Homo sapiens: one gene and its partners. The protein of the gene in region 2 purifies or fractionates together with the protein of the main gene of each other region. This does not show direct contact. Each region holds a gene or a part of one and is shown on either strand. Other genes may lie near its edges.

Region 1 (7,625 bases), on a different chromosome or scaffold from region 2:
GACAATCCTTTGTTCTGACATGGAGAGATATAATGTTACCGCTAGATCGGACACTAACCACAAATGAGAGAAGTGCCGCCATAACTGCAGCCCGAGAGTTTGGCGATATCTGGTATCTCAGTCAGGTCAATGATAGGATGACAACAGAGGAAAGAGAACGATTTCCCACAGGCCAGCAGGCAGTTCCCAGTGTAGACCCTCATTGGGATGCAGAATCACAACATAGAGATTGGTGCCACAGACATTTACTAACTGGCGTGCTAGATAGAAGGACTAAGGAAACTAGGAAGAAGCCTATGAATTATTCAGTGATGTCCACCATAACACAGGGAAAGGAAGAAAATCCTACTGCCTTTCTGGAGAGACTAAGGGAGGCATTGAGGAAGCATACCTCTCTGTCACCTGATTCTATTGAAGGCCAACTAATCTTGATAAGTTTATCACTCAGTCAGCTGCAGACATTAAAAAAAAAACTTCGGAAGTCCACCTTAGGCCCGGAGCAAAATTTAGAAACCCTATTGAACTTGGCAACTTCGGTTTTTTTATAATAGAGATAAGGAGGAACAGGCAGAACAGGACAAATGAGATAAGAAAAAGGCCACCGCTTTAGTCATGGTCCTCAGGCAAGCGGACCTTGGAGGCTCTGGAACATGGAAAGGCTGAGCAAATCGAATGCCTAATAGGGCTTGCTTCCAGTGCGGCCTGCAAGGACACTTTAAAAAAGATTGTCCAAGGCCGGGCGCGGTGGCTCACGCCTGTAATCCCAGCACTTTGGGAGGCCGAGGCGGGCAGATCACGAGGTCAGGAGATCGAGACCATCCTGGCTAACACGGTGAAACTCCATCTCTACTAAAAATACAAAAAATTAGCTGGGCGCGGTGGTGGGTGCCTGTAGTCCCAGCTACTCAGGAGGCTGAGGCAAGAGAATGGCGTGAACCCAGGAGGCGGAGCTTGCAGTGGGCCGAGATCACGCCACTGCACTCCAGCCTAGGCAAAAGAGTGAGACTCTGTCTCAAAAAAAAAAAAAAAAAAAAAAAAGATTGTCCAAATAGAAATAAGCCACCCCTTGTCGATGCCCCTTATGTCAAGGGAATCACTGGAAGGCCCACTGCCCCATGGGACGAAGGTCCTCTGAGTCAGAAGCCACTGACCAGATGATCCAGCAGCAGGACTGAGGGTGCCTGAGGCAAGCGCCAGCCCATGCCATCACCCTCACAGAGCCCTGGGTATGCTTGACCATTGAGGGCCAGGAGGTTAACTGTCTCCTGGAAACTGGCGTGGCCTTCTCAGTCTTACTCTCCTGTCCCGGACAACTGTCCTCCAGATCTGTCACTATCCGAGGGGTCCTAGGACAGCCAGTCACTAGATACTTCTCCCAGCCACTAAGGTGTGACTGGGGAACTTACTCTTTTCACATGCTTTTCTAATTATGCCTGAAAGCCCCACTCCCTTGTTAGGGAGAGACATTCTAGCAAAAGCAGGGGCCATTATACACTAGAATTAGGAGAAGGGAAAAGGGTAAATATATATACAGACTCAAAGTATGCTTACCTAGTCCTCCGTGCCCATGCAGCAATATGGAGAGAAAGTGAATTCCTAACTTCCAAGGGAACACCTATCAAACATCAGGAAGCCATCAGGAGATTATTATTGGCTGTATAGACACCTAAAGAGGTGGCAGTCTTACACTACCGGGGTCATCAGAAAGGAAAGGAAAGGAAAGAAGAAATAGAAGGGAACCGCCAAGTGGATATTGAAGCCAAAAGAGCCGCAAGGCGGGACCCTCCATTAGAAATGCTTATAGAAGAACCCCTAGTATGGGGTAATCCCCTCCAGGAAACCAAGCCCCAGTACTCAGCAGGAGAAATAGAATGGGGAACCTGACGAGGACATAGTTTCCTCCCCTCAGGATGACTAGCCACTGGAGAAGGAAAAATACTTTTGCCTGCAGCTAACCAATGGAAATTGCTTAAAACCCTTCACCAAACCTTTCACTTAGGCATTGATAGCACCCATCAGATGGCCAAATTATTATTTACTAGACAGGCCTTTTCAAAACTATCAAGTAGATAGTCAGGGCCTGTGAAGTGTGCCAAAGAAATAATCCCCTACACTACAGGCCATACATTTCAATCCCTGTATCTTTAACCTCCTTGTTAAGTTTGTCTGTTCCAGAATCGAAGCTGTAAAACTACAAATGGTTCTTTAAATGGAGCCCCAGATGCGGTCCATGACTAAGATCTACCGTGGACCCCTGGACCAGTCTGCTAGCCCATGCTGTGATGTTGGTGACATCAAAAGCAACCCTCCCGAGGAAATCTCAACTGCACAACCCCTACTATGCCCCAATTTAGCAGGAAGCAGTTAGAGCGGTCATCGGCCAACCTCCCCAACAGCACTTGGGTTTTCCTGTTGAGGGGGGCACTGAGAGACAGGACTAGCTGGATTTCCTAAGCCAACTAAGAATCCCTAAGCCTAGCTGGGAAGGTGACCGCATCCACCTTTAAACATGGGGCTTGCAACTTAGCTCGCACCTGATCAATCAGGTAGTAAAGAGAGCTCACTGAAATGCTAATTAAGCAAAAACAGGAGGTAAAGAAATAGCCAATCATCTATCGCCTGAGAGCACAGGAGGAGGGACAATGATCGGGATATAAACCCAGGCATTCGAGCCGGCAACAGCAACCCCCTTTGGGTCCCCTGCCATTTTATGGGAGCTCTGTTTTCACTCTATTAAATCTTGCAACTGCACACTTTTCTGGTCCGTGTTTGTTACGGCTTGAGCTGAGCTTTTCCTTACCGTCCACTACTGCTGTTTGCTGCTGTCGCAGACCCGCTGCTGACTTCCACCCCTCTGGATCTGGCAGGGTGTCTGCTGGGCTCCCGATCCAGTGAGGCGCCCATTGCTGCTCTGGATCAGGCTAAAGGCTTGCCATTGTTCCTGCGTGGCTAAGTGCCTGGATTTGTCCTAATTGAGCTGAATAGAGCTATAACACTCATTGCATGGCCCAAGATTCCATTCCTTGGAATGCGTGAGGCCAAGAAACCCAGGTCAGAGAACAAGAGGCTTGCCGCCATCTTGGAAGTGGCCCGCCACCATCTTGGGAGTTCTAAGAACAAGGACCCCTGCCACCCACCCCCCGTAACAATTGCACTTACTTTATTTGGTGTTCATAGTTTCCCTCTGAGACAAGATTTTTTATTTTTTATTTTTTTAGAGATGGGGTCTTGCTATGTTGCCCAGACTGGTTTTGAACTCCTAGCCTCAAATAATCCTCTCATCTTGGCCTCCCAAGTATTGGGATTACAGGTGTGAGCTATCCTGCTCGGCCCCTCTGAGATAAGCTTTAATATCCCTATTTCAAAATGAGTAAACTGAGGTTTGGAGTGGGTAAAGTGCTTCCTTCCTTCATTCATTCATTCATTCATCCATCCATCTATTCATTTATTCAACAGACATCTGAATGAGTAGCTACCCTGCATCAGGGTATGCCAACTCTGGGCATACGAAGATGATTAAGACAAAAATCCCTGTCCTCACAGTCCAGAATGAAGGACAGACACATAAAGATGAGTATAATACAAGGTGGATCATGAATTGTAGCTAATATTTATTGGGTACTTACTAAGTGCCAGTGACTGCTGTAAGCTCTTGGTGTGTTTTACTCCTTCAGTTCTCCCCAACCTCTGTTAGCTACATGTCTCATAGATTGATTCATAGATAAGACTGAAGCCTGGTGATTGTCTACGGTTTTATAAGTAGCAAGTGGCAGAGCCAGGATGAATACCCAGTGGATAGGTATTAGTGCCAGAGGTCCCACTTGGCCATCAAGCTCTACTGTCTCTGATGATAAAGTAGCAAACAGGGACCTAAGTTGGTTGGGGGGGGCGCTAACTCAGTCTGGCATTCACGGTGTTCAGGGGAGATTTCCTGAAGGACTAAGGAATTAGCTAGACAGAGGTGAGTGGGGGGGAGGGAGGGCCATCGCTGGGGAGGGCCAGACGTGGGAGCCACCTCCTGGAAATCTACACAGCATCTAGGCCAGGCAGGGACTGGAGCGTGTGAGGAAGCTGCGAAAGCAGGCAGGACCCAGCTTCCAAAGGAAAGTGGTCCGTATCCTAGAGGTAGCTGCAAGTTTGAAGGGTTTTACGTAGGGGAGAGACTTGGCCAGATTTTTAGAAAGATCACCGGGGAGCTGGGTGAAAGTGGATGGAAGGACAGAGACAAGCACTGAGGCAGTGAGTGGGGAGGAGAGAGGAGAAATTCAGGAAGAAGAGTTTTCCCCATGATGGTTATTCGGGGGTTAAGTAGAGGACAGGGAGCAGTTTTAGAGGACACCCAGCTTCTGCTCCTAATCAGGGGGATTGGGGTGATCTGATGAGGTCAGTATTGGATGTCAACCCAGTCTTCTGGCGCCCAGTCCGTGCCCTTTCGCCTCGTGGCACTGCCAGCAATAATGCCCGCGGGCCACGGGTGAACGTGAACCGAGCTCGCAGCCTCCAACCCCACCCCTCCGGCGGCGGCGACGTGCAGTGCATCACCCTGGGCACCAGGGGGCGTGCCCGCACACGCTCGGGCCGCTCTGGCCCAGCCCATCTCAGTGGTCGCGGAAGGTGACGTGGACACGGAAGTGGTCGTCGTCGCGGCACCGGTGGGAGCTAGGCGCGAGGCTCGGAGTGCGGCCAGCGGGCGGAGGCGGTCTCGCATCGGCGGCGACGGAGGGCTCAGGCGTCGTCGTTTGGGTGGGGGGCCGCTGAACTGACAAGCGACATTTCAGCTCCTTTCACCCGCCGGAACCCCGGAGCCGGGGCCCGCTCAGCCGGCGTTACCATGACCAAGGCCGGTAGCAAGGGCGGGAACCTCCGCGACAAGCTGGACGGCAACGAACTGGACCTGAGCCTCAGCGACCTGAATGAGGTCCCGGTGAAGGAGCTGGTCAGTATCGTCCCGCGAGGCCCAGGCGCCCACCTTCGCCGGGCGCTGGCCCCTACGTGGGCCACTTACTTTCCTCTTCTCTAAAAGCATCAGTTTCCTTTTCTTTAAAAAGAAGCGGGGTGGTGGGACTAAGTCCCCTAGGAGGCCGCGTCCAGCCCAAGGTTCTTCCCGGGATGTACACGTGTCACTTTGGCGCAGTTCCAGAACATAGGGAAGATCTGCTTCTCTGGCCCTAGGCTTTTTACAGGCTAAGAAGCGAATCTGTCACCTTTGCGGGGCTTTCACAGCGCCCACCTCCGTGCCCGACTCTGAGTAGGAGCACACGGAGCAGTTACTGGATGTATTCGAGAATGAATGAGTGACTTGTTCCAGGGGAGTAGGCCTCCTGGTAGACCTGGGTGTGGCCCAGAACCTGGCTCTTCTAGGAAGCTGGCAATTCCAGCTGGCTGCCCGAGCCCTGAGGCAGCCTAACTCGAAGAAAGTAAAGTCTCCCCCCAGCTTGGCTGGTAAACTGTCATCTGAATTCCGCTGAAACTGGCGGGAGTCCCTTTCGCCCCTCTCTCCCCCAACCTTTCCCCTGTAAACTGAAGCTTACAGCTCCAGAGAGATAGCAGGCATCTAGTTTTGTCAGCGTGGAGCTAGTTCCCACATCCCTCCTTTTCCCACTCCGTTCCCCCTCCCACCCGCGCCAACGCCCTACTAGACTCACTTTGGGTGACCCACACTTTGCTTTCTGCCGTTGATAAATTACATTTGCCTTGGGCGCTGGGCCCAGTCTTTCTTCCACCGTGGACGGGTATTACAGTGGTTAGAACCGGGTTCCTAGCTCCTCCCAGCTCCATTGCTTAATAGCCGAGTGCCCTTGGCAAGCTAGTTAGCCTTTATGCCTAGATCTCCTCATCTATACAATGGTGATAATAGTTTCCATCTCATACGCTTATTGGGAGGTTAAATACCATTGTAATGGAAAATGCTTGGAAGGAGCAAATACTGATACTTGTAGCTGTTGTTGTGTTTTTCCCGCTGTAGTATTTAAAACTTTTTTAGGTGGTCAAACTTCACTTTTACGACTTTGTGACAGAAAGTGCAGGTTGCCAGAGGATCCTTAACTGAATATATGCCTCCTTTTCTACCCCAGGAAGATAGATGGCCAGCCTTATTTCACCCTGCCCTAGGACTGCTCTCTGAAACCATATACTCCAGGCATCTGAACAGTCCAGCATTAACCTTAGGGAGAAAGTTTTGCTGAGCTTGTCCAGCCTGGACACCATGGGAAAATAGAGATGGGCTGTGAGGGCCTTTTTTTTTTTTGGATGATGGAGTTTTGCTGTTGTTGCCCAGGAGTGATCTCGGCTCACTGAAACCTCTGCCTCCCGGGTTCAAGCGATTCTCCTGCCTCAGCCTCCCGAGTAGCTGGGATTACAAGCGTGTGCCACCATGCCTGGCTAATTTTCTATTTTTAGTAGAGACAGGGTTTCTCCGTGTTGGTCAGGCTGGTCTCGAACTCCTGACTTCAGGTGATTGCCTGCCTCAGCCTCCCAAAGTGGTGGGATTACAGGCGTGAGCCACCGCACCCGGCAGGGCCTTGTTTTTTCACTCTGTCATTCACTCCGCTACTTACTCGATCAGTCATGATTCAGGCAACATGTATGGATATTGAGTACCTGTTCTGAGGAAGGGCCTGAACTGGGGAATATGGAAATTGCAAAGCTTTATTAGACACTGTCCCTGCCCTGAAACCTAATAAGAGGGACGCTGGGTAATATTTATTTTTAAAGTGCTAGGAATAATGTCTAAGAATCTAAATTTTGCTTGCCTGCCTGCCTGCCTGCCTTCCTTTCTTTTTTTTTTTTTTTGAGATGGGGTCTCACTGTGTTGTGCAGGCCGGCCTCAAACTCCTGAACTCCTGGGCTCAAGCGATCCTCCTGTCTCAGCTTTCTGAGTAGCTGAGACTATGAGACTACAGGTGTGAGTCCCTGTGCCTCGCCTAAGGTTTACCTTCTTGGAGGTTGTACAGCCACATCCCTTCTCTTTGCATTCTTCCTTAGATCATGGTTGACTGGCTTATTTTTCCTCTTATTCCCAGGAACATTACTCTTTACTGCCATTTTAAAAGGCCTTTCCTAATCATGGGAACATTCTCTGGAAAATGCTTCATTAACATATGTCAGTGAATTGTTCCAGATGTTGGTCTGACATGTTTTTCTCATCCTCTTTTACCTAGGCTGCCCTTCCAAAGGCCACCATCCTGGATCTGTCTTGTAATAAACTGACTACTCTACCGGTAAGATTGGCATGCAGCCGTGACTCCTTCTGGTGCCTTGGATGCATCTCCTTCCTGTTTCGGGGGTTGAGAGGGGGGTGGGAGGGTGTCATAAGGTGTAATTTCAGGATAGGCCTACAGGCAGGCTATAGCTAAATCTGAGTGTGTAGGGGAGGCACAGTGGAATGGAGTGGTTGGTCTCAGTGGGAAAGGAATTGAGATGGAGGCCTCATTCTTCAGAACAGTGGTAAAGTCAGTCCACAGAAAACTAAACTCAACAGGGTGCTGAGTAACTTACTGGGCTCATCTTTTTTCTACATTATTTTATTCCTCTGAAAAATAGTTTACCTCCCTACTGCATAGAGGATGCTAGAGACCATTTTGTAAGTTGCTCTGCGTTCCAGGGAGAAAGCTGTGAACAGCTTC
Region 2 (8,030 bases):
AAATAAAATAGACATAAGAACAATTTCCTCTTACTTTGCATCTGCCAGTCCACAGACCATGCTGGCCTCTGTTTTTCTTTTTTTGAGATGGGGTCTTGCTCTGTCACCCAGATTGGAGTGCAGAGGCACAATCACACAGCTCACTCCAGCCTCGACCTCCTGGGCTCAGGCAATCCTGTCTCAGCCTCCCTGGCAGCTGGGACAACAGGCATGCACCACTGCGCCTAGCCACTGTTAGTTTTTAGTTAAGTGTAGAGAGTCCAGCATGGGCCAGGCCTGGTGGCTGATGCCTGTAATCCCAGCATTTTGGGAGGCTTCGGCAGGAGGATCAGTTGAGCCTAGGAGTTTGAGACCAGCCTTGGCAACATAGTGAGACCCTGTCTTTACTAAATAAATAAATATATAAATATATATATATTAGCTGGGCATGGTGGCATGCACCTGTGGTCACAGTTACTCAGGAGGCTGAGGTGGGAGGATCCCTTGAATCCAGGAGTTCCAGGCTGCAGTGAGCTATAATTATACTTCTGTTGTCTATTCTAGGCAACAGGGCAAGACCCTGTCTCTAAAGCAAACAAACAATTTTTTAAAAATGGTGACAATATCCACGCTGACTTAGGGTGACTATAGATTAGGCATAGTTCCGAGTCTCTCCCTCCTTTGACTGTCACTTGTTAGGGAAGAAGTGGTTATTACCTACATTTTACAGGTGAGAAGACTGAGGCCCAGGGCAGGGAAGCCTTAATCTAAGGTCTCAGAGCTGTAGGAAGTGGAGCCGGGGTGACACCAGGACTCCTTTTGGAGGAAGACTCAGGAAAGATGCAGAATACGTGTTTTTTTTTTTTTTTTTTTTTTTTTTTGAAACAGAGTCTTACTCCATCACCCAGGTTGGAGAGCAGTGGCGTGATCTTGGTGATCTTGGCTTACTGCAACCTCTGCCTCCCGGGTTCAAGTGATTCTCTCTTGCCTCAGCCTCCCAAGTAGCTGGGACCACAGGCAGCTAAGTTTTGTATTTTTAGTAGAGATGAAGTCTTGTCATGTTGACCAGGCTGGTCTCGAACTCCTGACCTCAGGTGATTCACCTACCTCGGCCCCCTAAAGTGCTGGGATTACAGGCGTGAGCCACCGAGCCTGGCCCAGAATGCAGTTAATCTAATAACAACACCTACTTCTTCAGCGCTTTCTGCCTGCCGATTCTTTTATATTTAAAGGCTCTTGGCATCTGTCTGCTTTTAAAGCTCAGGGCAACCCTGAAAGGTGAGTTCTGGTGCCTTTCTTTCTTTCTCTCTCTCTCTCTCTCTCTTTCTTTTCTTTCTTTCTTTCGACGGAGTCTCGCCCTGTTGCCCAGGCTAGAGCGCAGTGGCACTATCTCTGCTCACTGCAACCTCCACCTCCCGAGTTCAAGCAATTATCCTGTCTCAGCCTCCTGAGTAGCTGGGACTACAGGCGCCAACCATCATGCCTGGCTAATTTCTGTATTTTTAGTACAGATGGGGTTTCGCCATATTGGCCAGGCTGGTATTGAACTCCTGACCTCAAATGATCCACCTGACTCGGCCTCTCAAACTGCTAGGATTACAGGCGTGAGCCACCGTGCCCAGCCTGGTGCATTGCATTTCTTATTATCCATATTTTCAGTTAAGCAAACTGAGCCTCAGAGTGGAGGAGCTGATTGCTCAAGGTCTGTTTTCCATATGAATCCCTGCCTGGTATGTAGCTCACTCACAAAGGAAGAAAAACTTTCTGCCTGGACTGGAAGGGCAAGGAGAAGCCTGTGTGGCCATGGGAGTGGAGGAAACAGCTAAGCACAAAGGCCCAGAGGCTGGAAACTGCTTAGCCTGTAGGAAGAGCAGCAGGGAGGAACCCCAGGGCTGGAGCAGTGTGATTGAGGGGCAGGTGGCTGGAGAGATGGGCAGGGCCTCCTAGGCATGGGGTGACTGACGCACCAGTGGTCTGCAAAAACGGAGCATCACACCAGTGCGCATGAGCTCTCCTGCCCCTTGGGGGGGCCTTCCTTGCTCCTGCAGCTGAACTCCCTACACAGCCTGACACCCATCTTTCCTCAGGCCAACTTTGGCCTGTGGTGCCCCAGGAGTTGATGTACAGATGCCTCAGGACATGCCATGAGGAAGAGAGAGACGAGATGGGGTGACTCATGCCTGAAATCCCAGCACTTTAGGAGGCCAAGGCAGGAGGATTGCTTGAAGGCTGGGAGTTAGAGACCAGCCTGGCCAACATAGCAAGACCCTGTCTCTACAAAAAGAGAAAGAAACAGAGAGAGAGAGAAGGAAAAGTGTTTTCTTTGCAAATCTATTCTAATACTTTCATAGAGAAGAGTTTTAGTTTGGTGTTAACCTGTCTTTAATAATCCTCTAAGGACCAGCACAGTGGCTCACGCTTATAATCCCAGCACTGTGGGAGGCCAAGGCTGTAGGATCCCTTGAGCTCAGGAGTTCGAGACCATCCTGGGAAAAACGGCAAGACCCTATCTGTACCAAAAAATAAAAATAAAAAATTAGCCAAGTGCAGCGGCGTGCACCTACAGTCCCAGCTACTTGACAGGCTAAGCAGGGGAGGATCGCTTGAGTTCAGGAGTTCAAGGTTGCAGTGAGCTATCATTTACAAAGGTAGATTGAAATATTATTGATAGGCTGGGCACGGTGACTCACACCTGTAATCCCAGCACTTTGGGAGGCTGAGGTGGGCAGATCACCTGAGGTCAGGAGTTTGAGACTAGTTTGGCCAGCATGGCAAAACCCCATCTCTACTAAAAAATACAAAACTTAGCCAGGCGTCGTGGTGTGCACCTGTAATCCCAGATACTTGGAAAGCTGATGCAGAAGAATCGCTTGAAATCAGGAGGCGGAGGTTGCAGTGAGCTGAGATGGTGCCACTGCACTCCAGCCTCTGTGACAGAGCAAGACTGTCTCCAAAAAAAGAAAAAAATATATTATTGATAATCGCTGCATTGAAGGCCAGGCGCAGTGGTTTACGCCTACAATCGCAGCACTTTGGGAGCCTGAGGCAGGCGGATCACGAGGTCAGGAGTTCGAGACCAGCCTGACCAATATGATGAAACCTTGTCTCTACTAAAAATACAAAAGTTAGCCGGGCGTGGTGGCATGCACCTGTAATCCCAGCTACTCGGGAGGCTGAGACAGGAGAATCGCTTGAACCCAGGAGGCGGAGGTTGCAGCGAGCCGAGATGGCGCCATTGCACTCCAGTCTGGGCAACAAGAGCGAAACTCCGTCTCAAAAAGATAATCGCTGCATCTTACTGCCCAAGTTGCCACAAGCACACGTAACATCTGATGGTGCCAATTCGACTGTCTGCACTTGGAAAATGGCACATTGGAGGCTGCACAGCACCATAAAACTGATGCCACGAATGCACACAAAAATAAGACCATACAGCATTATGCCTAGTACAGAATACACCCTGAATTCTGTCACAGTTCACTTTATGCAACATTGCAAGAGTCCTCTCGCTCTTTATTATTATTTTTAATTTTTTTGAGATGGGGTCTCACTCTGTGACCAGGCTGGAGTGCAGTGGCCCGATCTTGGCTCACTGCAACCTCCTCCTCCTGGGTTGAAGCGATTCTCCTGCCTCAGGCTCCCCAGTAGCTGGGATTATGGGCGCCTGCCACCACACCCGGCTAATTTTTGTATTTTTAGTAGAGACAGGGTTTCATCATGTTGGCCAGGATGGTCTGATCTCTTGACCTCGTGATCCACCCGCCTTGGCCTCTCAAAGTGGTAGGATTACAGGCGTGAGCTGCCGCGCCCAGCCATTAATTTTTTTTTTAATTTTGTTTTTAACTTTTAGGTTTGGGGGTAAATGTGAAGGTTTGTTAAATAGGTAAACACTTGTCATGGAGGTTTGTTGTACAGATTATTTCATCACCCAGGTATTAAGCCCAGTACTCAATACTTATCTTTTTGTTTTTTGAGATGGAGTCTCAGTCTATCTCCCAGGCTGCGGTGCAGTGGCGTGATCTCGGCTCACTGCAACCTCCGGCTCCTGGGTTCAAGCGATTCTCCTGCTTCAGCCTCCCGAGTAGCTGGGATTACAGGCGCCCGCCACCACGTCCAGCTAATTTTTTTATTTTTAGTAGAGACGCGGTTTCACCATGTTGGCCAGTCTGGTCTCGAACTCCTGACCTCAGGTGATCCGCCGCCTCGGCCTCCCATACCCAAAGTGCTGGGATTACAGGAGTGAGCCATCGCGCCTGGCCCCATTATTAGTGAATTTTAACAGTTTTCCGTTTCTTCTGGACGAACTGTTTGCAATTATAATGCGAATTACGGATAATACTCTGATATTATTCCATGCCGTTCCGTTGTTGCCTACAAAGTTCGCGCTGGAGAACCGCGCAATTGCGTTACAAAAAGAAAAAAATCACACAAAAAGACACAATGTTTTAAGAAAGTTTACGAATCGTGTGCCGGACCGCGGGTTGAACAAGCTTCATCTAAAACTTCCAGGAATCTCTAGACAGGATCATTGCTTCCCCTCTGCTCCAGCTCTGGTTACAGAAAGCTGAGAGTGACTAGGTCTAGGTGTTTGTGTGGGGTGGGGTGGGGAGATGCCTCCTCTATCGGACTCAGAGGACGCGCGCCGGGAACAGCCAGTCGGTGCCTAACGCGAGTGTATCTCGAGAGAGAAGCGATCAACAGCTGCCGGTCTGCGCCTGCGCGCGGCGGGGGCGTGGCCCGGGGCGAGTGGGGCCAAGGAGGCAGCCGGGAGCGGCGGGCGCAGGTGTTACTGGTTGCGTCGGGTCACGTGGGCGCGCAGGCGCAGCGCGGTGCAGCCCGTTCGCTCACACAAAGCCCAGACGCGGAGAAAATGGCGGCAGGGGTCGAAGCGGCGGCGGAGGTGGCGGCGACGGAGATCAAAATGGAGGAAGAGAGCGGCGCGCCCGGCGTGCCGAGCGGCAACGGGGCTCCGGGCCCTAAGGGGTGAGTATCCCACGGTCCTTTGCCACGGGTAAGGGTTCCTCTCCGCGGCCGACGCGGGCGGCGGCTCCGTTAGGTCTGTTGGCGGCCTAGCCCCGGCGCGGCCTCGGCCCCGGCTGTTCCCGTACCGCCTGCTCAGGGTAGCGGCGTCTAGGGCCGTGAGCGGGGAGCCGGGGGAGCCTCCAGAATCGTCCCCTACACCGGGCCTCGAGCCTCGCCACCCTCAGTCCCTCCAGGCCGGGGCCAACCCCGTAGTCGAGGCCTCAGGCCCAGCTGCTGCGCATGGGGGTTGATGGCGCGGGCCCGGACCGGAGAGCCTCCGAGGCCTACCCGACCGCTCCCCGGGAGGGTGACCTCGGGGGCCGGGTTTCAGCCCCCCGTCCCCTCTCCTCCCGGGGTCTGTTTTCTGATCCGTAACGTGGGGGGAGGAGAGAGGGTGCGCGCCCGGGAGGCCTCGCGCGCAGTCAGCCCGAGTCAACGGTAACCGAGCGAGGGAAGCGTCAGGAAGGGCCGCGAAGCCGGGTCGGGGGGCTCCCCTCCTGCCCCGCCCCTTAGTCCCCGCGCGCCGACCGCGCTCCGCGGGAAGTGCCTCCCTCGGAACCGCCCCTCGCCCCACGCTCTGGCCCTGGCTCAAGTCCCTCGCCGTTTCCCGCTCCTCCTCCCCGGGTGCGCCGCAGGTATTAGTGGAGAGATGGGATCTGCTGCTTAGCGTTCACCCTCGGAAGCAGACAGATACGAAGTCGGGGGAGGAATCCCCTTTTTCCCGTGTTTCGGGGAAGCTGTTCTGTCAGGAGGCGGGTTCATTTACTTCCAGACTTCATCAGCTTTTCGAGTCCTGCTTGGGGCTCTTTGACTCCTTGGCTTTTAAAAGTTTCTTTAAAGGAGGAAGCATCGACTTGTGCCCCGGTGAAACTCATTCATTCTGATTACAGACACTTAAGAGAGACAGAGAGGTTTTGGCTCCAAGATCAGCGGCCGGGAAGGAAGGGGAAGCCTGGGTACACATTGAATTTCCCAGACATTTATTTCATTGTGGTAAAATAGACATAACGTAGACTTTGCCATTTTAACCATTTTTTAAGCGTATAATTCAGTGGCATTGAGTATACTGACTCAGTGTGCTGTAACCGTCACTGCTTCATGTCCAGAACTTTTTCATCATCGGAAACAGAAAGTGTAGCTATTAAATACTAACTCCCTCCGTTTTCTTTCCTTTCTGTCTGTGACTTTGCCTTCCTCATATTGTAATGTGTGAAGCTTAGTTTATGGAGATTAAAAGTGAATGCGGTTGAGCACTTATATATTTAATTTTTTTCTTTGAGACAGGGTCTCCCTCTGTTACCCAAGCTGGGATGCAGTGGCACGATCACAGATCACTGCAGCCTCGAACTCCTGGGCTCAATCGATCCTTCCATCTCAGCCTCCTGAGTAGCTGGGATCACAGGCGCGGCACCACCATGCCCGGCTAATTTTTTGAAGAGAGGAGGTCTCCGGGTGTTGCCCAGGCTGGTCTGAAACTCCTGGGTTCAAGCCATCCTCCTGCCTAGGCCTTCCAAAGTGCTGAAGTTACAGGCATGAGCTACTGCGCCCTGCCTAGTTGAGCGCTTAGGTTAAGAACGTTCCCTAAGTGCTAGCTATATTGGTAGATAATAAATCCGGAGAAAATTCCAGATTCTTTCCCTCCTTAAGTAGGGAGAAATAAAATACCATGGTTACTGGCCCTTAGAAATGAGAAAAACTTCCTCTATTCCCAGCATTTTACTATTGAAAACTCTGGGAAGGAATGTGTTAATTTTGACTTTTTCAGCGTCTATCTACGGAAGCTGGTAGGATTTCTGAGGGTGGTATTTGGAGGGCTTTAAGATAAATTTATTTACCGTATGCAGGAAGGAGTGCTGGTAGAACCTTGCTAGATGATAGGGTAAATTAATAGATTACAAATTTTCCCTTTTCCCCTGTCCATTTTCAAATAGTCATTTTGTGACTGAGTCATTTTACAAATACATGTGGACTGTTGGAACCTGAAAATTGTAGAATAAAATAGCCGTTGTGAGAAAGAGGCTCAAAGTCTCAAAGTCTAGTACTAGCTTCATAGAGGATAGTTTAGGAAGCTGGCAACACTTGGATATTTTTGATAGGGCCTGTGGAAAACTTTTTTTTTTTTTTTTCATTACAAGTCTTAAGGAAATCTCTTTAGAAGCCTATACTTTTGCACTCCATGCAGAGTGGAGAGGCCATTAACATATTTGTATGTTATGTATGTTATGTAATTACCATAACATAAGGTAATTATGCTGTGATAGAAGTTAGTGGAGTTGCTTGGTAGAAAGAATGGAGGAGGTGACCTCCGCCACCTGCTGGGGGCAGGGACCTGTTCCTCCATGACAGGAAGACGTGTGGAAGTGGAGGAGAAGAAGATGGTTGGGGAGGGGCAGGGAAGAGAGTATCCAAAGAGCAGAGATTTGAGTGTATGCTTTATCGAGAACTGAAGTTGTGCTGGGTGTAGTGGCTCACACCTGTAATCCCAGCACTTTGGGAGGCTGAGGTGAGAGGACTATTTGAGCTCAGGAGTTCAAGACCAGCCTGGGCAACATGGTGAAACCCTGTCTCTACCAAAAAAAAGAAAAAACAAAACAGGCTGGGCCCGGCGGCTCACGCCTGTAATCTCAGCACTTTGGGAGGCCGAGGCGGGCAGATCACGAGGTCAGGAGATAGAGACCATCCTGGCTAACACGGTGAAACCCCGTCTCTACTAAAAATACAAAAAATTAGCCGGGCGTGGTGCCGGGCTCCTGTAGTCTCAGCCACTGGGGAGGCTGAGGCAGGAGAATGGCGTGAACCTGGGAGGCAGAGCTTGCAGTGAGCCGAGATTGGGCCACTGCACTCCAGCCTGGGCGACAGAGCGATACTCCTTCTTCAAACAAACAAACAAACAAGAACACTGAAGTTGCTATAGAGTTTTAAGGTTGGAGCACTGGCAGCCAGCTGATGGGCAGTGAATTTGGATTTTTATCTTGAAAGCCTTTGAGAGACAGGAGAAAAATAGAAACTTGGTTCTTTGGAATTCTTTC
Region 3 (7,000 bases), on a different chromosome or scaffold from region 2:
TCCCAGCACTTTGGGAGGCGGAGGCGGGCGGATCACGAGGTCAGGAGATCGAGACCATCCCGGCTAAAACGGTGAAACCCTGTCTCTACTAAAAATACAAAAAATTAGCCAGGCGTAGTGGCGGGCGCCTGTAGTCCCAGCTACTTGGGAGGCTGAGGCAGGAGAATGGCGTGAACCCGGGAGGCGGAGCTTGCAGTGAGCCGAGATCCCGCCACTGCACTCCAGCCTGGGCGACAGAGCGAGACTCCGTCTCAAAAAAAAAAAAAAAAAAAAAAACTGTTTGGCATATTTACCAAAGGTAAACATATGCCTAACCTAGGACTTACAGTATGAGGTTAGAGAACACTTACTCACTGTTCCCGCTGAACAGTTCACCTCCAGTCTTTTGCTCCATCATTGCCCCTGTCCAGATGCTTTCATCACACTTTTTCCCAATCCCAGAGACCAGCTGAGATCACTCTCCCTGCTCCCTACAAAGAGATCGATCTCCCCTCTTAAGGAAAATTCTGCCACTTACCTATTACCACTGACAAATGACTGATGGATTCTTCACATATAAATTGTCTCATGTGATTTTACAACGTTCTAATTTGCTCCTCACAATACCATTGTGAGGAAGGCAAGATATGGAGTGTTAACCCCACTTCACAGATGAGAAAATGGAACTTCAAAGAGAGAGAAGATGACATCTCCAGTTTACATGGCCTTATTATTCCAGACCCCACAGGCAATGCTAAATTGTTGGAAGAAATCGGGAGCACAACACAGCATCCCAAGTAATATTTCTCTCTGAAGGGTAGGAAAGAGGGAAGAGCCCTTCAAAACCAGGAGAGCCTCAATGTGCCCACCATTTCCATTTACTAGGGCTCCTTGCTGCAAAGTGTTCAAAGGCGGCTGGCAGTGGCAATGGGCTTCACGAACTACAATATAAACACAATTATCAAATCACAGACTGATCAAATGCCAGAAACCACACCTCAGATAATTCCACCTGCATACAAAATAGAGCTATTTTATTTCAAAATAGAGCATAATAAAACTTAAAATAATTCAACATGAAACTTAATTTTCTTCATTTCTACATAAGAAGCGAGACAATACCAAATCTTCCTGAAGCCAGCCAGAGAACTGTGTGGGTGTCCAGATGCAGATATCTGGACACCTAAACCTGAAAGGAAATGTTGTCCCCTACTCTAATATTCTTGACTTTACACACTGGGTGTTGGACACCTTAGCAACAGAGGATAAATATCTGTAAAAAACAGAAGGGAGAGAAGGGAATGCCAAAAAAATAAAGTCTACACACTGGAAGTCAGATTATCAAACTGGTCTCCTTGTCTACTGATACAGCCACCAATTATGTTATTTTCCGTTTGAACCCTCAATCCAAATATATGAGCCAGGGCGGCAGGCTGGATTTGCTTTACTTATCTGTCTTCCTCTCAAGACTGAAAGTAATTTGTGGACAGGAATTATGTCTTGTTGGTTTTTATGTTTTCCATAAGAAGAACATATAGGAGGTACTCCAAATTCCTGGAACGAATGGTTGAGATTAGGGATGGAAGGCTGTTGGGACTCCCAAGCATAAATAATCATGCCACGGCAACTAAGTAACTTCCTCTGAACCCTAATTTTAGTAAGGGTTGATTTTAATTGGTGTAAGAATCAATTAGGGTGAATCTTTAAAGTCTGAAGAGAAGTTATTCTTGTGCTCAACTGATTCACGCACAGCCCTCATTATTACTTTGGCAGCAGCACCATTCCTCAGTACCACCTTACAGGTATCCGCAAAAACAAAATTCCAAAGCCTTAAATTAATGCTTCAGGTAAAAAGGAAACGACGTGGTCAGGCGCGGCTGCTCACGCCTGTAATCCCAGCACTTTGAGAGGCCGAGGTGGGCAGATCACCAGGTCAGGAGATCGAGACCATCCTGGCGAACACTGTGAAACCCCGTCTCTACTAAAAATACAAAAAAATTAGCCGGGCGTGGTGGTGGGCACCTGCAGTCCCAGCTACTCAGGAGGCTGAGGCAGGAGAATGGCATGAACCCGGGAGGCAGAGCTTGCAGTGAGCGGAGATCATGCCACTGCACTCCAGCCTGAGCAACAGAGCGAGACTCCGTCTCAAAAAAAAAGGAAACAACATTCGATTTCTCAGTATAGTGTGGTCATATCTCTTACCAAAAAAACCCAAATCTAGATAAATGAAGTTATGGAAATGACCCTTTTAAATCTACTGCTGGGCTTGCTTTCACTAACACAAAGAATTTCAAAGGAAACTAGACAAATAGATCAAGAGACACCATGTAAGCAGTACCGTTAACTAAGCTTATTAAAATCCTTAATAAAATAAACAGGAGACAGCTAAATACCAGATAAATGCCTCTGGAATGAAGAAAATCTGGCCAATAACATTAAGCTTCCAAACCTGGCATTCTAAAAGAGAATATTTACTTGGAATAAAGCAATGAGTCTTACCTTGACAAATAACAGAGCTATTCAGTCTCTACAGATGGCACTTCAAGGGCCAGGTAACCTCAGTAGAGGCATCTACTCCATAAGCTAAAGCTCTTAGGAAATGCAAGTTTCTGGTCTAGTGTTTTTCCATTATTACCATTGTGTGAAAATCTTAAAATGTTTTTTATTTTTCCTTTATTATGTGATTTTAAACAGTTTGCTACATATTTTAATGTAATTTTTTTATAGTCTTGGACTCCAAGTTTGTCCCATGAGGCTACAGCTCCAAGTTTATAATGGAACTCAGCATACAATTTGATAAATTCATCTCACAAGCAATTTTTCAGCAATCTGTCCACTCTAAAAAGCAATATCCATCTGTTTATATACTGAAAGGTATCTTTTGTGAACCCAGAATTTAACCCTCTGAGATACTCTCAATACTTTAGCAAAGCCCTTTCTCCTTCCAGAGATAAATTCTCAAGCCACTTCCACAAAACTGTAAAAAGGTAGAAATATCACTCAAGATTATCTAGTCCAATTCCCTTGTTTCACAGACAGGAAGACAGAGATCCCACAGAATATTAGATAATTACAATTAACATGGGTTTGGCAAGCAACAAAAGCCCACTGACTGCTATTTTCCCCAGTCAAACTCATTGGTGTGTTGGGAAGATAGCCAGATTTGCACTTTAGTTAGTAGAGCACTCCCTAGGAAACTCAAGTATGTACCCTCTAAGAAACCCAAGTATTCAGCCACAACCCCCTACCCCAACCCCAGAATAGAGAACAGGGGGCAGTGGATGTCTTAAATGGCTCTTCTGGAGATGGAGACTAGAGCCCAGGGACAATATCCCATCTTTCCTTCCTTCCTCCCAGGAGGTACAGGACATTGATTACCATGAAAGCCATTATGAAATGACAGAAGACACTAACACTGAGGAAATAAGGCAAGGCTGTGGAAACAAAAGATGACCAACATTAATACTTGGCCAGATACCTGCTTCTACTTATTCGTTCGAAGAGAGGGGAGAAGTGAGAGAGACAGGGACCTCCAACCCTTTTTCTGTCCCTACCTCCCCACCCCCACTCTTTGGGCCTTTATAGAATTTCAGGGACCCCCCCAGATGATTTTATGAGGAAACAGGGCTATAAAAAGAAAGGACCTTAGTCCAGCCCACACACTGACCAAACGATGCTCAGGCTAGTGACAAGACTTCCTATTTATTCCACTGCACTCTGTCTCTATTCCTAAGGGTCTGTGAGCTGCACCCTGAGCACAATTTCCTTACAGTACCCAGGGGGAAGTTGTAGGACAAGCAGGTTAACATTACGGCTGTCATTTTCTCCCTTCCAGCTATATAGACATGAAGCCAAAATTGAATAAGACCAAGACACTCAAGTGAAAACCTTGCTATCTCCACCCCTACTATATCCCCTCACCAATGCCAAACTAAGAAGGGGGAGAAGAAGAAAGAAATACCTCTCCTAGAGATATATTATCTAAACCACCACCTAGAATCATAAAATGTAATTGCTAGAAGGGACCTTATGGGTCATCTAGTCATTATTCAGATGAATAAACCTAGACACGTGCCACCCGAGAAAAAGACTGGAGCACACAGTGGGGTCTCCTGACTCCTATCCCTAATAGAAACCCTTCCGGGTCCCTCTCCATCCTGTCCTACCCTGCCCTGCCCCATCCACCCTCTCCCCAGGCCACCGCTGTATCCAAGCTACTGAGACTTCTGCCCTTCTGGATCATGAGCTCCTTAGGATACGTTTTACTTATCTTTGTTTTCCCAGTGCCTAGCAGAGAGTAAGCAGAGAAGTGGCTTCGGCTTAGAGAGGGACTTAGGAATACACTAGTACACGAAAAGACCAGTGCCAAAGGATGTAGCCTGGATAAAATGTAAACTTTTCTTGGCTTAACGTAAGCAGTTTCCAGGCTGTGCCACACCCGGATGTCTAGGATTGAATATCTCCTCTCTTCCTAAACTAATGTTTGCATCATCCAGTTTAGCCAGGAACATGACCAGTTGTGCCATACTCTCACTCTCTCCCTTTCAGACCTGACACAAAGAACTAGAATCCATAACCAGAGGTAAGTGAAAGCATATGTAAGGAGACCCTGCATAAGAAACCCTACCCCCTCCCTTACGTGCTCCTTCTTCTCCTGTGTCCTCACCTCAATAAACAGCACCCATTTACAAAACTGCACCAGGTAGAAACCAGATGTCATCCCGATTCCTTCCTTACCCTCCACACCAATAATCTTTGTCTCATCACTCAATTCCACCTTTTTTCTTTCCTTTTTTTTTTTTTTTTTTGAGATGGAGTCTCACACCCAGGCTGGAGTGCAGTGGTTCGATCTCAGCTCACTGCAACCTCCACCTCCCAGGTTCAAGTGATTCTCCTGCCTTAGCCTCCCACATAGCTGGGATTACAGGTGCCTGCCACCACACCCGACTAATTTTTTTTTTATTTTTAGTAGAGACGGGGTTTCACCACGTTGGCCAGGCTAGTCTCAAACTCCTGACCTCAGGTGATCCACCCACCTCAGCCTCCCAAAGTGCTAGGACTACAAACGTGAGCCACCACGCCCAGCAATTCCATCTTTTTTCTGCACACACTCTTGCACACGCTCTCCCACAACCTTCATTTGAAACACCATCACCTCTTGCCAACCTCCTAACTGGTCTCTCTGCCCACAGTGTTCTAGCTCTCCAGTCCGCTCCTGAACAGGCAGCCAGAGATATCCTTCCAAAATGCACATTGAATCATGGCCCCCTCACCTCCGGATGAAGTCCAAACTCCTCAACACAGGCAAGAAGGCCCTTTCCTGACTTGGCCTCTGCTCTGCCTACCTTGAAAGTCTCCTGTCTGGCCATATCCACCCACCTCAAGCATTATGCTCCACCCAAGAATCCTGAGAAATTTGTTTAGCTCTCTTGGCCCGTTTCCTTCAACTACAGAATGGGAATAGTAACAGTACGTACTTTCGGGATGGTCTTAACCTATTATCACCATTTCTGAACTTACTGTTCCTTCTACCTAGAACAGTCTTATCTCTGCCTCTTCCCTGACTCCCCAGATCTCTTCTTTTCCTGGCTTATGTCTGTTCTCTTGAGGGCTAGGCTTAACCAACTTCTCCTCCTAAAAAGCCTTCCCTGACCTTCCAATGCTGGGTTAGGCATCATTTTTCTGTGCTCTCCTGGTGTCTGTCCCTGTGACAACACTTCTCACACTGCCTGTTTCCTTGCCTATCTTTCCCACTACGCTATACAAACCCAAATCCCTAAGCGTAGCACCAGGTCTAACAGAGGCTCATTAATTCTTCAGTGAATGAAAAACTTTCCAAAAATGAGGTATCCAAAGAAAGACAATCTCAACAAGTAACCAACTCAAATGTCAGCCAGGTGGCTGGTCTAAATGACTGTAAGGTCCCTCAACTACAAGATTCTATTCAATAAATTCAACACACTGACCTCATGGGTCATATTTGTTTGAACTTTAATATGCAGGCAATGTTGGGGCCATCAGATTTTTAAGGAGAGTGTGACATGACCAGACACATGATCATGTGTTTGTTACCCTATTAACCATCTCTGAGACACTGCCTCTCCCAACCCCCAGTTGTTATCAGGACAATATTCCAACCATCTTCATAAACATGAAGAGCCCACTCCCCTAAATGGACCAACACAGAAAACGGTCAAAGGGCATTTTGAAAGGCTATATGCAGCATCTAACTCCATCTTAACCAACTGCAAGCAGTGAGTATCCATAAACATCCTCCAAGAACCCAAAAGCTAATCCCTCCTGTGTGCCTCTATGGAAAAAGGGGGAAGAAAGAGGGAACATTTCATAAAGGTGATCTACTTAATCATTCTGAGTAGTTTTGATCCAAGCTGCTGTCACTGCACTGTTATTCCTGATAACTGCAGCCCAATATCCCCAAACCCTGGACTGTCAGAAGGGCAGGTGCAAACAAGGTGAGGGTGGGGAGTTATCTCGGTTCTATTTTAAGGGTGTAATAGCCTGGCGTGGTGGCTCATGCCTGTAATCCCAGCACTTTGGAAGGCCAAGACAGGAGGATCACCTGAGGTTCAGGAGTTCGAAGCCAGCCTGGCCAACGTGGTGAAACCCTATCTGTACTAAAAATACAAAAATTACCCAGGCGTGATGGTGCATGCCTGTAGTCCCAGCTACTCGGGAGGCTGAGGCAAGAGATCCCTTGAACCCAGGAGGTTGAGGTTGCAGGGAGCCAAGATCGTGCCACCGCAATCCAGCCTGGGCGACGGAGTGAGACTCCGTCTCCAAAAAAAACAGGGTATAAGGTCTCTTCTGCAGATACTGGGGGGCCAGCAGAGATTCAAAACAGGCTTCAGTGATACAGAACATCAACCTAAGGGGGAGAAAAGTAGGTCTTACTCAGAGAGGCCTGGGTTCCTGCCCTGGAGCTGCATGCCACATCTCTGCTGCAGGTGAGGACTAATAATTTTGCATTTACAATGCACTCTGAGACTAAAGAAGACACTAA

What was found.
Region 1: the proteins of HNRNPM (region 2) and LRRC59 purify together in Homo sapiens (affinity purification with mass spectrometry; 2 studies listed by BioGRID, with this or other methods). This does not show direct contact.
Region 3: the proteins of HNRNPM (region 2) and RALY fractionate together in Homo sapiens (co-fractionation; 2 studies listed by BioGRID). This does not show direct contact.

The regions. Positions count from the first base shown.
Region 1 is NC_000017.11:50,394,524-50,402,148, reverse strand, and holds the start of LRRC59 (leucine-rich repeat-containing protein 59), read left to right. Parts: upstream 1-4,625; 5' UTR 4,626-4,831; coding exon 4,832-4,936; intron 4,937-5,645; exon of another isoform or gene 5,646-5,742; intron 5,743-7,156; exon of another isoform or gene 7,157-7,160; coding exon 7,161-7,220; exon of another isoform or gene 7,221-7,225; intron 7,226-7,625.
Region 2 is NC_000019.10:8,440,150-8,448,179, forward strand, and holds the start of HNRNPM (heterogeneous nuclear ribonucleoprotein M), read left to right. Parts: upstream 1-4,825; 5' UTR 4,826-4,849; coding exon 4,850-4,962; intron 4,963-8,030. UniProt on the Homo sapiens protein: Pre-mRNA binding protein in vivo, binds avidly to poly(G) and poly(U) RNA homopolymers in vitro. Involved in splicing.
Region 3 is NC_000020.11:33,996,911-34,003,910, reverse strand, and holds part of RALY (RNA-binding protein Raly), read right to left. Parts: intron 1-7,000. UniProt on the Homo sapiens protein: RNA-binding protein that acts as a transcriptional cofactor for cholesterol biosynthetic genes in the liver. Binds the lipid-responsive non-coding RNA LeXis and is required for LeXis-mediated effect on cholesterogenesis.